Homo sapiens: one gene and its partner. The protein of the gene in region 2 interacts with the protein of the main gene of each other region in a pairwise test. Each region holds a gene or a part of one and is shown on either strand. Other genes may lie near its edges.

Region 1 (7,550 bases), on a different chromosome or scaffold from region 2:
ACAGTGACCCGATGCTGGGATCCCGCGTGGAGATCTCCATCGGTCTTGCCCCTGGCTGAGTCTTGGCATGTGCAGCTGGGATGGAAATGCTCCTCCAGTGGACAGTTACAGCAGCTAAGACATGGCTACCTTGCTCAGCCAATAGGAGGCGGTCACCTACAAACATCCCTTCCAAAGGTTCAAGGCTCCCCTGAGAACTTGGATGCTGGGGAATGGTGCACCTTCCCTGCTGCTCACTGCACCTCTCACCTGGCAAAGAAAAGCCACAGGAAATCTAAGCCCTTTCTGCAGTCTGGCATCGGCATATGAAAGATTCCAACGAGGAATTTCAGAACTCATCCCAGCTCCCGAATCTGAGTAAGCACAGACCTCTTGAGTAGGGCTGAGCAAATGCGGCAAAATCAATGCACATATGACAAGATTCAGTGGCCCAAAGAAGGGAGCTAAATGAGGAATCAAAGCAAATACCCCATATGGAATTGCTGTAAAAAATCAGAGAAAACCTGAAAGTAGTGGTTTTCAAGCATGACCCACTAGTGGATTGAAAATCAACTTAGCGGGTTGGAACCAACTTCCTTTTTCTAAAACAAAAAAAGAATAGCATACATCAGATTGCATCAGGTTCTTAGCAAAATCATATTTTATATTATCTTTTTCATACCAAAGATATTTTATATTATTTTTATTATACCGTAGTAAAGGTATTGTTTCATGAAAGTTTTTAGTTATATATATTTATTTATTTATGTATACATATAAATCTTATGTGTATGTGATCCATGTACTATGATGTAAAATGTAAATTATTATGGTAAGTCAAGATTTTTTTAATTTTTAAAATTCTTTAAAAATTATTTTTATTTATTTATCTATTTATTTTTTGAAACAGGGTCTCACTCTGTTGCCCAGGCTGGAGTTCAGCAGTGCAATCCCGGCTCACTGCAGCCTTGACTCCGTGAGCTCAGGTGATTCTCCCCCTTCAGCCTCCCGAGTAGCTGGGACTACAGGCACACGCCACCACACCTGGATAATTTTTTGTATTTTTATTAGAGATGGGGTTTTGCCATGTTGGCCAGGCTGGTCTCAAACTCTTGAGCTCGAGTGATCTGCTCGCCTCAACCTCCCAAAGTGCTGGAATTAAAGTCGTGAGCCACCATGCCTAGCCTAGGTCAAGATTTTAAAAGTTTCATAAATAGTCCTGTAGAACACTGGGTGGAGTTTGGAATGGTGAAAATGTGTCAGGAGAGTATTGTAACTGAAATATTCCTGATCTTCTCTTTCAAAAAGATGGCCTTCTTCCCATTATCCAAGGCAAGGATTTCAGGCCTGAGTCAGCCATAAGCTCATCTGTCTTTTTTTCTGTACTTACCTCCTCATAAATGGATTAAGAGAGCCTCGAGCAATGGTGAGGGTTGGAGAAGGTGGACAGGTGGCCCAGTCTTATGCGCTTTCCCTCTCTTCCTTCCTTCTCCTCATCCTCCAAGGATGGTTGTAGCCAACTCCAGCCAAAGTGCAGATGCCAGAGAATCCTGCAGCAGTTGCTGAGAACACAGGATACCTGTCACATTTACTGAAGCAGTGGCAGGACAATGCATCCCCTGCATTGAGCTAGTTGTCAGAAGCAGAAAATAAAAAGTGTGTGTGTGTCTCTGTGTGTGTGTGTGTGTATGTGTGGTGAAAAAGAGAAATATATCTAAAAATAATCTTAAAAGACATGATATGTAATTTCTTACCAAAACTCAAGCCAAAGCAATCACACATACACCCACACACATGCACGCACACACCCCCATCCACACACACACACACAGAAGTAAATGACAGCAGTTGGACCATCAAAATCTGAAAAATTCTTTCAGGCCAAAGACTCCATAATGCTCTATAGCTGTTATTTTGCATTTCTTTGAATCTCCTCTCAGTTCTATTTAGAGATCACGAAATGTCTAATTTAATGGCCCTGCCCTTAGTTCTCCAGGAAGGAGATCTTAGTTGTTCATCCACGAACAACTTTTTGAGCCACTTTCCTACTTCTATTTCTTCCAGTAGGCAGATCATATTTTGGGTTTCTTTGTTTTAAGTTTGTGGTTTTTGTTTTTCCCTCTTTTTCTTTTTAGGTTGTAGTTAAGTGGTGTATACAAATTTATTAGCAATTTATTATATTGCCACTTTGTATTTTAATCTTTAATATTAAATTTTGTGTTTGGTAAAAATGCTGTAATTAGTAAAATGTAGAGTAATCAGTTTTTACCCATTCTCTGCTCTTCAATAACAGCTTGTTGAGTATTCTCTCTGATTTATTCTAGCATCAGACACACACACGCGCACACACTGTGCTGCAGCATGTTTTGTTTTCCAATTCTATGTAGCACAAAAAGACTTAACCTCATTCTTCTCCATATCTCAACAGTATTCCATGTATCTTGATGATCACTTACAATATAAGGCAAGTAAGCATAGGCAATTCATCAGATTTGAACCAGAGATGGGGTTACTAAGTGAACTATTAGTTCCCCAGAAGAATTAGCCCAAGCAAAGGTGTTGTACAGTATGTAAAATGTCTTTTCCTACTTTATACATTTTATCTGGCCAGAGAACACCTTTAAACATTAAATGCAATCATCCTTAGTCATTCAACAAATATTTACTGAGCAATTGATAGAGGCCATTCGCCAAGCTAGGCCTCATGGATCAACTCGAAATATGACAGACAGACTCTGCCCTCAGGGAGCTTAGAGTTCAGTAGACATGACCAGTGGTGACACAAGCCACTGGAGTAGCATCAGATGAGTGCTTTGGTAGTGGAAGAACCTGTTCTCAGAGCACAGACAGCTTTGGGGGTCTGTATTGGTTTGTGGTTTCATTTTAAAGAAGTGTTATCCAAAAATAGGGTTTGAAGAGTGATGAAAATTTAGCATCATCAAGGACTATAGAAAATTTGGAAGGCATATCTCCTAATGCTATCCCTCCCCCCTCCCTACACCCACAACAGTCCCCAGTGTGTGATGTTCCCCTTCCTGTGTCCATGTGTTCTCATTGTTCAATTCCACCTATGAGTGAGAACATGCAGTGTTTGGTTTTTTGTCCTTGCAATAGTTTGCTGAGAATGATGGTTTCCAGTTTCATCCATGTCCCTACAAAGGACATGAACTCATCATTTTTTATGGCTGCATAGTATTCCATGGTGTATATGTGCCACATTTTCTTAATCCAGTCTATCATTGTTGGACATTTAGGTTGGTTCCAAGTCTTTGCTATTGTGAATAGTGCCCCAATAAACATACGTGTGCATGTGTCTTTATAGCAGCATGATTTATAATCTTTTGGGTATATACCCAGTAATGGGATGGCTGGGTCAAATGGTATTCCTAGTTCTAGATCCCTGAGGAATCGCCACACTGACTTCCACAATGGTTGAACTAGTTTACAGTCCCACCAACAGTGTAAAAGTGTTCCTATTTCTCCACATCCTCTCCAGCACCTGTTGTTTCCTGACTTTTTAATGATCACCATTCTAACTGGTGTGAGATGATATCTCATTGTGGTTTTGATTTGCATTTCTCTGATGGCCAGTGATGATGAGCACTTTTTCATGTGTCTGTTGGCTGCGTAAATGTCTTCTTTTGAGAAGTGTCTGTTCATATCCTTCACCCACTTTTTGATGGGGTTGTTTTTTTCTTGTAAATTTGTTTGAGTTCATTGTAGATTCTGGATATTAGCCCTTTGTCAGATGAGTAGGTTGCAAAAATTTTCTCCCATTCTGTCAGTTGCCTGTTCACTCTGATGGTAGTTTCTTTTGCTGTGCAGAAGCTCTTTAGTTTAATTAGATCCCATTGGTCAATTTTGTCTTTTGTTGCCATTGCTTTTGGTGTTTTAGACATGAAGTCCTTGCCCATGCCTATGTCCTGAATGGTATTGCCTAGGTTTTCTTCCAGGGTTTTTATGGTTTTAGGTCTAACATTTAAGTCTTTAATCCATCTTGAATTAATTTTTGTATAAGGTGTAAGGAAGGGATCCAGTTTCAGCTTTCTACATATGGCTAGCCAGTTTTCCCAGCACCATTTATTAAATAGGGAATCCTTTCCCCATTGCTTGTTTTTGTCAGGTTTGTCAAAGATCAGATAGTTGTAGATATGCGGCATTATTTCTGAGGGCTCTGTTCTATTCCATTGGTCTATATCTCTGTTTTGGTACCAGTACCATGCTGTTTTGGTTACTGCAGCCTTGTAGTATAGTTTGAAGTCAGGTAGCGTGATGCCTCCAACTTTGTTCTTTTGGCTTAGGATTGACTTGGCAATGCGGGCTCTTTTTTGGTTCCATATGAACTTTAAAGTAGTTTTTTCCAATTCTGTGAAGAAAGTCATTGGTGGCTTGATGGGGATGACATTGAATCTATAAATTACCTTGGGCAGTATGGCCATTTTCACGATATTGATTCTTCCTACCCATGAGCGTGGAATGTTCTTCCATTTGTTTGTATCCTCTTTTATTTCCTTGAGCAGTGGTTTGTAGTTCTCCTTGAAGAGGTCCTTCACATCCCTTGTAAGTTGGATTCCTAGGTATTTTATTCTCTTTGAAGCAATTGTGAATGGGAGTTCACTCATGATTTGGCTCTCTGTTTGTCTGTTATTGGTGTATAAGAAAGCTTGTGATTTTTATACATTGATTTTGTATCCTGAGACTTTGCTGAAGTTGCCTATCAGCTTAAGGAGATTTTGGGCTGAGACGATGGGGTTTTCTAGATATACAATCATGTCATCTGCAAACAGGGACAATTTGACTTCCTCTTTTCCTAATTGAATACCCTTTATTTCCTTCTCCTGCCTAATTGCCCTGGCCAGAACTTCCAACACTATGTTGAATAGGAGTGGTGAGAGAGGGCTTCCCTGTCTTGTGCCCGTTTTCAAAGGGAATGCTTCCAGTTTTTGCCCATTCAGTATGATATTGGCTGTGGGTTTGTCATAGATAGCTCTTATTATTTTGAAATACGTCCCATCAATACCTAATTTATTGAGAGTTTTTAGCATGATGGGTTGTTGAATTTTCTCAAAGGCCTTTTCTGCATCTATTGAGATAATCATGTGGTTTTTGTCTTTGGTTCTGTTTATATGCTGGATTACGTTTATTGAATGCTAAATGACGAGTTAATGGGTGCAGCACATCAACATGGCACATGTATACGTATGTAACAAACCTGCACGTTGTGCACATGTACCCTAAAACTTAAAGTATAATAATAACAAAATTAAAAAAAAAAAAGAAAAAAAAGAAAATTTGGAAGGCATTGGAAGCAGCCTGCACCAAGTCCTGGAAGCTAGAGAGCGCATGGGACATTCAGGGGACTGAAAAGGTTTAGTGCTGTAATAGAATGGAGTTCAAGATAGGGCAGAGCAAGAGCCTGGAGGGGTTGGGGGAGCAGACCATGATGATAAAAAAATTGACAGGCCACAAAACAAGACAAATTTTAAGTCTCAGTGACGGTTGTTAATACGATTTTGAAATAAAGCAAATGATAAATCTTAGACCGGGCGCAGTGGCTCACACTTGTAACCCCAGCACCTTGGGGGGCCAAGGTGGGTGGATCATTTGAGGCCAGGAGTTCAAGACCAGTTGGCCAACCTGGTGAAATCCCATCTGTACTAAAAATACAAAAATTAGCCGGGCATAGTGGCACGTGCCTGTCATCCCAGCTACTCGGGAGGCTAAGGCAGGAGAATGGCTTGAATCTGGGAGGCGGAGGTTGCAGTGAGCCGAGATCACACCATTGCACTCCAGCCTAGATGACAGAGCAAGACTCCATCTCAAAAAAAAAAAAAAAATCTTGAGAGATGATATATAATGATCTATGATGTCCCCTAAATAGTCAATCACTCTGAGAGCACCTAGCACCTCACCTCTTGCATAGGGAAGAGGCATCAGATAGTGCCATTCTTGCAATCAATGAAGAGGAAAAATACAGGCTCAAATATTGCTTTGAAAAATTCTTTACATAGCCACCAGTAATATCAAATAAAATGAATGAAACCTATGATTCATTAAGAAGGAAAAGAAAGTGTGAATAAGTTGACTGGAAAACAAGAAAAGGAATAATTAAGGAGCCATAATAAGAAAAACAAAACATGTGAGAAGAAAGATGAATCAATTAAGCTCTGTAGTAAGATTACACATTAAAATAAAAGAGACTCTCAGATTCAGTTTAAAAAAGGGAAACAAAAAAAGCCTAAAGAAACAAACTCTCTCTCCCCAGTCCAATTATATCCCACTTTCAAGAGACACATTTAAAACTTAATCACATAAAGTTACAAATAAAGGGATAGGAAAATACTGTGCAAATGCAAATTAAAAGAAAGTGAGGTGTCAGTGTTAATTTTGTCAGACAAAATAAAAATTGAGGCAACTATTAAATAGATCAAGAATTACTTTTTTACAAAATGATAAAAAGAGCACTCAATGAAGGCATGAAAATCAGAAAACTTTGGGTAAACATAAAGCGTCGAAATATGTAAAACAAAAAAATTAGAGATATACTCCAAATATGGTGTTAGATTTCAATGTACACCACTGTTAAGATTTTTTCAGATTAATTAGACAAAATGTACATAAAGAGCTTGAATTCTATGACTTACAAAATTGAATATGTGCTTACATATATATGCAGTCATGTGTTGCATGGCAATGAAGATAAGTTCTGAGAAATTTCATCGTCGTACAAACGTTACATAGGGTACTTAAACAGACCTGGATGGTATAGCCTACTACACCCCAAGGCTATATGGTATTGCCTACTGCTTCTAGTCTACAAGCCTGTACAGCATGTTATTGTAGGCATTTGTAACACAGTGGTAAGTATTTGTGTATCTGAACATTTGTAACAAAAGGTACAGTAAAAATATGGTATTTTAATCTTATGGGACCACTATCATATAAGCAGTTCTTTGTTGACCATAATGACTGCATTTTAATATCACATTTGAATATATACATATTTGAAACCCAAAACACAGAATAATCATTCTTTTCAAATGTGCACAGAACACATAAAACACTTAGTCACATCACATACTGGCTAACAGAGTAAACCTCAATGAATTCCAACAAATAAAAATAAGACACATCCTGTGGCACGATGCAATTAAACTGGAATTTTCTAATAAAAAATTGTAAGAACAGCAACACTAAATCTGGGAAATTTAACTACATGAAATTAACAATAACACCAAAAATCTCCTGAAGAACTGAGTTTAAATTGGGAATCAAAACTGCAATTACAGACCATTCCTAAAATAACATTTAGAATATTGTATTTCACAATTCCTGGGTTGGGGCCAAAAGGATGTTCAGAAGAGAATTTCGGGCTTTAAATAATGATGATGATGATGATGATGATGATGACGATGACATGGTGGCAATAAAACCACCCAACAAACCATGCTAAGAAATTTACATCCAGGCCAGGTGTGGTGGCTCATGCCTGTAATCCCAACACTTTGGGAGGCCGAGGCAGGTGGATCACGAGGTCAGGAGATCAAGACCATCCTGGCTAACACGGTGAA
Region 2 (7,550 bases):
TCCCACCTCCAGTCTCGTTATCTGGGAGATGCACGGCATTTGGGGCTTTCTTGCTGCTTTCAGAGAGTGATTTCCCATTTGTTTTCATTGACCAGGTGCCCGGGAAGAACCCACCGTCCAGCAGGCACAGCGTCGGTCAGCTGTCTTTCTGTCCTTTAAGTCCCCAATTCCATGTCTGCCCTTGCGCTGGGAGCAGCAAAGCAAACTTCTTCCAACTGTCGCAGGAATCCCTGCCAGTAAAGTTTCCAAATGGAGCACAGACGAGGTATATTTTATTTTCTTTGCTGCCCGACACCAGATACAGGATTACTGGCTTAAGAGGTGTGGAACATTGAGCGTAGGTAGCGTTTAGTCTTTTTTTTTCTGAAAGAGAAGAAATTATTGTGAGAGAAATAACTAATGCATATGGGTTAAATGTTTTGAACCTGTAGCATTTAGATTCTGACTGTGTTTTTTAACTGGGAATTTTGATATTGCTTTTGACAGGTGTCAGAATTTATACAGAGCTTACCTGGGTGTGAAGAACATGGAAAGGTATTTAAAGATGAAGTAAGTATTCCACTAAATTGCAATATGTTACTTAATGGGATCAAAGCACTGAAATGCAGTGGAAGGTGAAATGTGTGGAATTGGCAGAGTCAAAAAGAGATGGGGTGTGTTGAAATTGACAAATTGATGTATACTAACAGGCAGTATGAATCAGTTGTATAAAAATGTCTTTGTATAAGATGAGATGCATAAGAATGTTTGTGAGTACCATTTTATGATACCCCACAGCAGTAACACTAGGCTCCTTATAAAAAGAAAACCCACAGAACTTAATAGCATGCATTTATATAGTTTATAGCACAGAGGAAGCCAAAGAAAGAAAGAAGCAACATTTTCTCTTTTTAATAAAGTGAAATTAGTTTCCATTATTTTATTTTCCAGTGTCATTCTAACAACACCATGATTGACTCCATTTGAGGTTTATAATAAGTAATATTAGCATTATGTCTAAAAAAATCCCTTAAGTCATATACATTCCTCAATAATGTTTATAATAAGATATTTATCACAGTCCACTTTTGGAAGATTATTTTATTAGTTGTTTTCAACTCCCTCTCCAAAACTTCAATATAAGGGGTGATTAAGAATGATATCACTTACAGTGAGCACTAGAATAAAAAGGAATCTGGTTTCTAACTTTTAATTCTGTAAGCGTACAGCAGGAGACCCTTTTCAGTAGAGACCTTTAAAAATAAGCCACTTGCCTGTCATCTCCTCCAAGCAAAGCAGTCAATTACCCCTCTGATTTTGGCTGTGTCTACTCCTGCCAGAAGGCAGAAAGTAGACTGAGTAATCTCAGAAGGTGCTCTCCAACATCTGCTGTCTACAGTTACACGCATACACAACTTGTTTGCCCCTATGTGTAAAGCTCAACTGTTAAGAACAGCACACTTTCCATTTCATTGCAGGAGTATAGACACAGCTAACAATCCAGCCACCAGTTGTCAGTGTTGTTATACTGTTAGGTATAATTTATGCGTTAGATGAAAGCTTGTTAAAATGCACAAGGATCTGATTTCCAACATCCTTTTTCTGATTTATGTTCTTATTGTGCAAAGGTTTTATTTTCTCTCTGTTTGATCTTTAATTGGCAGTTATTCAGATTTTCTTTCCCTAAGTCCTGAGTGTCTTCACTGATACTCTCAATTCATTTTCTGTTTTTTCCTTTTTTTTTTTTTTTTTTTTAAATCGAGATGGAGTCTTGCTCTTCTCTCCTGGGCTAGAGTGCTCACTGCAACCTCCGCCTCCTGGCAGAGGCGATTCTCCTGCCTCAGCCACCTGAGTAGCTGGGATTACAGGTGCCCGCCACCACGCTCGGCTAATTTTTTTTGTATTTTTAGTAGAGACTTGGTTTCACCGTGTTGGCCAGGCTGGTCTCGAACTCCTGACCTCAGGTGATCTGCCCACCTCGGCCTCCCAAAGTGCTGAGATTACAGACGTGAGCCACCGTGCCCAGCCTGAATTCATTCTGTATCGCTGAGCAGACTTAGAGCCACATAGGGAGCTGTTGGTCTGTCTTGGAAAATGTCATGTTGTCATTACCTTTGAAAATAATAAAGCATTTTTGAAAATAAATTTATAATGCATCTCTTTTATAACTTCTGTTTTTTTATTCTGTTGTTATCTAGATAATCCCTATAGGTTTGCTCTATTATTCAGTTTGAGTAAGATTCAAGTTTAAATTCAAAATGAGATGCTATTTTTTGAGTAATTTTTTTTATTCATGGCAGATTGTCTTTGGAGATGTTCCTCAGTTACCAAATATGCTCAAAGCTAGATCCTTTTCTGGAGGAGTGAGATAGTTAATATTCTCTGTCGATATGAATTATTCATTCATTTACTCCTTCATTCATTCATCTTGTGCACATTTGTTAAATTCCGACCATGAGTATGTTACTTTGTGTCATGCTCTTGTGAGAAGGATGATTCGAAAATAATGAAACCTAGTCCTTGTTCTCAAGTGTCTCACAAGGTCAGTGGGTTTGGGTTTTGAGTCCTACAAGTAAACCATAGTACAAATCTAACCGAAGTCTTATAAATCATCTTTAAAAGGCAAAGGACAAGTATTCAGATAGGCTGTTGTTGGAAATTATCCTTGACTTCTCTCTTACACATGCCACATCTCATCTGTTGAAAATCCTATTGGGTGTATCTTTGAAACATGTAAAACCCTTATCACCCTACTGCCACCACCACCCTGGTCTGCGCCACCATCCTCTCCCACTTGGATTAGTGCAGTAACCTCCAAACTCATTTTCCTGCTTCTGTTTTTGCTCCTCTACAGTCTATTCCCAGCACAGCCAAGGTTACCCTGCTGAAACATAAGTCAAACCATGTCACTCCTCTGTTCAGGTCCTTCCAATAGCTTCATCTCTCAATCAGAGTAAAAGCAGAAGTCCTTACAAGGGCCTGCAGTCTGACACCTCATTACCTCTCTTGCCCCCTGGCTTTTTGTTTACACTGCCCCTCACGAGTCTACGTGCTGGCCTCCTTGCTCTTCCTCTGATTGTCCAGGCTTGCTCCCGCTCCTCCTTCTGCACAGAACACTCTTCCTCCAGATGTTCATGTGGCTCACTTCTTCTGCTCAGATGCCAGCTTGCCAATTAGTCCTGCCCTGACTTTCTTACTTGAAATTGCCTCTTGTCACCACACATGCATCCCTGCTCCTGCTGCCCATTCATCTTCCTAGTCAGCTCTGTTTAATCATAGCACAAATCACCTTTTTTTTTTGAGACAGAGCCTCACTCTGTCGCCCAGGCTGGAGTGTAGTGGCACAATATTAGCTCACTGCAACCTCTGCCTCCCAGGTTCAAGCTATTCTCATGCTTCAGCCTCCCAAGTAGCTGGGACTGCAGGTGCGTGCCACCACACCCGGCTAATTTTTGTATTTTTAGTAGAGATGTGGTTTCACCATATTGGCCACACTGGTCTTGAACTCCTGACCTCAAGTGATCCACTGACTTCAGCCTCCCAAAGTGCTGCAATTACACTCATGAGCCGCTGCTCCTGGCCAACATGAGTCACTTTCTAACTTACTAATTAATTGGCTTACTTAGTATGTTTATTGGCTTATGGTCTGTCTACCACTTCTAGAATGTAAATTCCACAAAAAGTTTTTTGCTTGCTTGGTTTTATTTGTTTTATTCCCTGCTATATGTCTAAGCCCAAGAAGAGTGTTTGGAATATAATAGACATTCAGTATATTTTTGTTGAGTGAATACATTCATGCCTTTACACTCTGAGAAAGACTCACTCAGACAGAGCATGTCACTGTGGTTTCGAGTTAAGGCATTGGAAAAGAACAAATAGTGAATAGTGGAAAGGGCAGTGAAATGGAAGGCCAGAGCTCCTGAATTCCAAATCCCTCTCCTTTGTTTTAGGCCATTAGCAAGACACCTAATGTCTGGAATAATGGCATTGTATATGCATTGCAGAAGCTAACCGAAAAAAAAGTAAGCCTTGTAATACATTGCAGTGGTCACTGTTGTTCTTAGGATGTACTTTCCTGAATTAAGTTGACTTCCTTCCAATCAAGACTTGTTTGTATGGCCACATGTCAGAGCAACCTGTATGTAATAAAGAGTTTGGAAGTAGCCTCAAGATTTTTTTTCTTTCTAGTGTATGTAACCTTATAAATAACAACCTACCAAAATGTATCCTTACTGTCCCACTTTTAACTTCAAATCCCAGCCACTAAGTTCTCTGGATGTTTTTTTTTTTCATCAGTTACCTGTTGTGTTATACTCTTACATAGTTTCAGAAGGAGACTTGCTGTCTGCGCCAGGCCTTCAGTAGGGCCAAGGTTGTAATAAACCAGTCAGCCTTTGTAGTGGGCTCCTTGGGAATGTCAGTTGACATTTTCATTAATGACTTAGAAGACTTCTATAAGGCTGTCCATTGTACTAAGGTCTGCCTTGGTTGAGCGAAGTGTTAATAGATCTGCCTTTCTTCCTGACCTTGCTTTATCAGAGGACTGTCATAGCACAAGCAAATGAGAACAGACCAATGTTTCCAGAAAACAGGAGAACATTTCTCATACCTGCCGCTTAACGGTGCTACACTTGGAGATTAACACTGGAACGTCTTTCCTTCTAGTTTACAACAGCAGGATGTCTTTTTACTGAAATTAGCACACTTTTTCCACATAATTGTTACTTGAAGAAGTTGTGTAAGATGACTCCAGTTCTTACTGATGAAGCATTTAGGCAGTCTATATTTACAGGTCTTTCATTTTTAAAGGAGAGAGGAAAATCTTAAGAAGTAGCAATTTAATTATATCAGCCTTGTTTAGAGAACTGTTTGCAGAATTTAGAGTTGTCTTAGTTTGCTAGGGCCACCATAACAATGCCAACCACAAACGGGTGGCTTAAATGGCAGAAATGCATCGTCTCACAGTTCTAGAAGCTGAGAATCTGAAGAAGGCTAGAAGTCAGGGGGTTGGCAGGGTTGCTTCCTCCCGAGGGCTGTGAGGAAAGAATCTGTCCTGGGCCTCTCTCCTTGACTTGTAGATGTGACTTGTAGATGGTGGTCTCTCTTTGGGTCTTTACGTTGCCTTCCCTCTATATGTGTCTCTTTCTCCAGATCTCTCCTTTTTATGAGGATACCAGTCATAATTGGATTAGGCACCCACCCTACTCCAGTGTGACCTCATCTTAACCAGTTACCTCTGCACTGACCCTATTTCCAAATAAAAGTCACATTCTGAGGTACTGGGAGTCAGGACATCAATATACGAATTTTTGTGACAGGGACACCATTCAACCCATAACGGAGTGCGTTGCTGTCAAGGTTTCTGATGTTCTAAGGCAGAGAACAAAAGTGTGTTTTACTTTTTGTACAAGGTGGGAAAACTGAAAGGGAAACTTTTTTTTTTTAAGGTGATAGAAGAGCTGAAAGTCATAATGAAAGACTGTTTCTTTGCTCTGCCCAGTAAGCCAGACATCATTTTCATAGTATTTTATCTTTTAACCTAAAAGATGTGTTGTACCTTTGAACTTCTAGAGAATAGTAGCCTATTTTTCAGAAGCATAGACTTTTGTCTTAGAAGATGTCCAGAGAGAGGAAGGGTCTTTCTCATAGTTACCCTACCTGCGTATTAGAAGAACCACCTTAAAGTCAGTGACTCGTAACACCAGCCTCACATTCACTGTTTGATTGCCCCGTTAGTAAATGCTTTTCTTCTGTGTGTAAAGACTTAACTGTGGCCACACTAGAGATAAGTGTTATCTTTCTGATTTTCTTTTCTTCATGGTGGAAGGCTAATTCTGGAAAAAAAAAAAATGTTGCATGTAGCTGATATGTTTGCCTGAGTTATTTTATGTCCACAAACATTCATGTACCTGTTATCTCTTCTAATTTTAAAACCTGCCATGATAAAAACTAGACTTTGGGCATCCTGGATTTTTCCATATTCTTCTTAACTCTACAACTAATTCAGAGTAATCACAGGAAGATATGGGCACCTTCTGTTTTCCTTTGGCTGGTTTTTCAGGTGAATTAGTTTACTTTGTTCCCAGTCCACTTTGGGATGTGTCATTGTGGATAAGAAAGGTCCATATATCAAGAAATGTCATTGCACACGTGAACTTCTCTGTGCTTTTTTAGCATTGCTATGTAGAAGACAGCTGGTAATTTAACCTTGAATATTTTCTACAACACTGCATCTTGTTAATCCACATTCTGTTGTTTTTTTCCCCCATTTTAGCAAATTGATGGAGAAGCATTTCTACTTATGACTCAAACAGACATTGTTAAAATTATGAGCATTAAACTGGGCCCTGCTCTCAAAATTTTCAATTCCATCCTGATGTTCAAAGCTGCAGAGAAGAATTCTCACAATGAACTTTGAAGATGGTGAATTCTGAATACCATCAGCATTCTGCTTTAAAGCTCATGTTTTATTCAAAGCACAAGGACGGTTATAACTCCTAAGTGAGAAGTCTCCAAAACTCAAAAGAGCAACACTATCGGATTATTTATATTACTCAAGAGACAATATATATGAATTCTTATGAAAGTGCTTGAGCTTTTAACCAGGTACTGTCTAACAACAGTCATCTTTTGGTTCTGTTCACTGAGCTAAATTTATCTTTGTAAATCTTTTTGAGTCTGGGGGGTGGGGGGAAGGGGGGCTTCATTAATTATTTATGGTAATGGGGGGCAGAGTAAGAACTTTTGGCATTTTGTAAACATTGTTGAATTCTCTTTCATGTACACTGTTTCTTTTTCAATACTTTCAGAAACCTTTTTATATAATCAAATTTCAATTTAAACCAAATTAGTCGAAACCTGGCTAAGTTTAGCCAGTAGGACTGTTATCTGTATTGTTAATTTTGTGCCATATTTTGAATTGCAACATTATGCTAAGTATAACTTTGCAAGTCATGATATTGCCTAACTGCTTGTCATAATTGTCAGGGCTGAATAGTTGTAAGAATGACTTTTCTTTGAATCAGTATTTTTCCTTTTGCACGCATTATGAAATGTTAAACAAATTACTTTTCACCAGCATCTTTACTATAATTACCAAAAACATGTATATAAAAGAATGAAATTGAAAAATAAAATATATAAACATAAATAAATTAGGTAGTGTATTTTGAGTGGCATCAGTCTCACTCATCTTGGTGCCCCGGTGTTTACAAGAGCCAGATGGTGTCAGAGGAGTACGCAGTTGTATGCAGTTATGGTTGGGGGGAATGTTTGTGAGGGTCTTGAACTATTTATGAGATGATCTTGAGCTTCTAATTTTCATTGATGAAATTGTGGTGGTTTACAGAGACTAAGAGCTCATTCTGTCAACAGAAACACTAATCTGTACAGAGCGCTGTCTCAGGTCATGCATTGTCCTCCAAACCCAAAGGTTTTTTTCAGGGTTGGCTAGAGAGCGAGTATTGTGATTTTGCTGAAAAGACAAGGTGTGAAGGAGCAACTTCAGTTGACACAAAATTTGAAATGCTCACAGATCAGGGAGGTGATTTCCCAAAGTAATTGCCCAAGAA

The links. The genes of interacting proteins can lie anywhere in the genome.
Region 1: the proteins of L3MBTL3 (region 2) and IL16 interact in binary tests that used the Homo sapiens proteins (3 or more experiments, as listed by UniProt).

Annotation. Positions count from the first base shown.
Region 1 is NC_000015.10:81,199,506-81,207,055, forward strand, and holds part of IL16 (pro-interleukin-16), read left to right. Parts: exon of another isoform or gene 1-305; coding exon of another isoform or gene 306-357; intron 358-895; exon of another isoform or gene 896-965; intron 966-7,550. UniProt on the Homo sapiens protein: Interleukin-16 stimulates a migratory response in CD4+ lymphocytes, monocytes, and eosinophils. Primes CD4+ T-cells for IL-2 and IL-15 responsiveness. Also induces T-lymphocyte expression of interleukin 2 receptor. Ligand for CD4.
Region 2 is NC_000006.12:130,133,357-130,140,906, forward strand, and holds part of L3MBTL3 (lethal(3)malignant brain tumor-like protein 3), read left to right. Parts: intron 1-95; coding exon 96-265; intron 266-486; coding exon 487-549; intron 550-6,253; coding exon 6,254-6,397; 3' UTR 6,398-7,550. UniProt on the Homo sapiens protein: Is a negative regulator of Notch target genes expression, required for RBPJ-mediated transcriptional repression. It recruits KDM1A to Notch-responsive elements and promotes KDM1A-mediated H3K4me demethylation.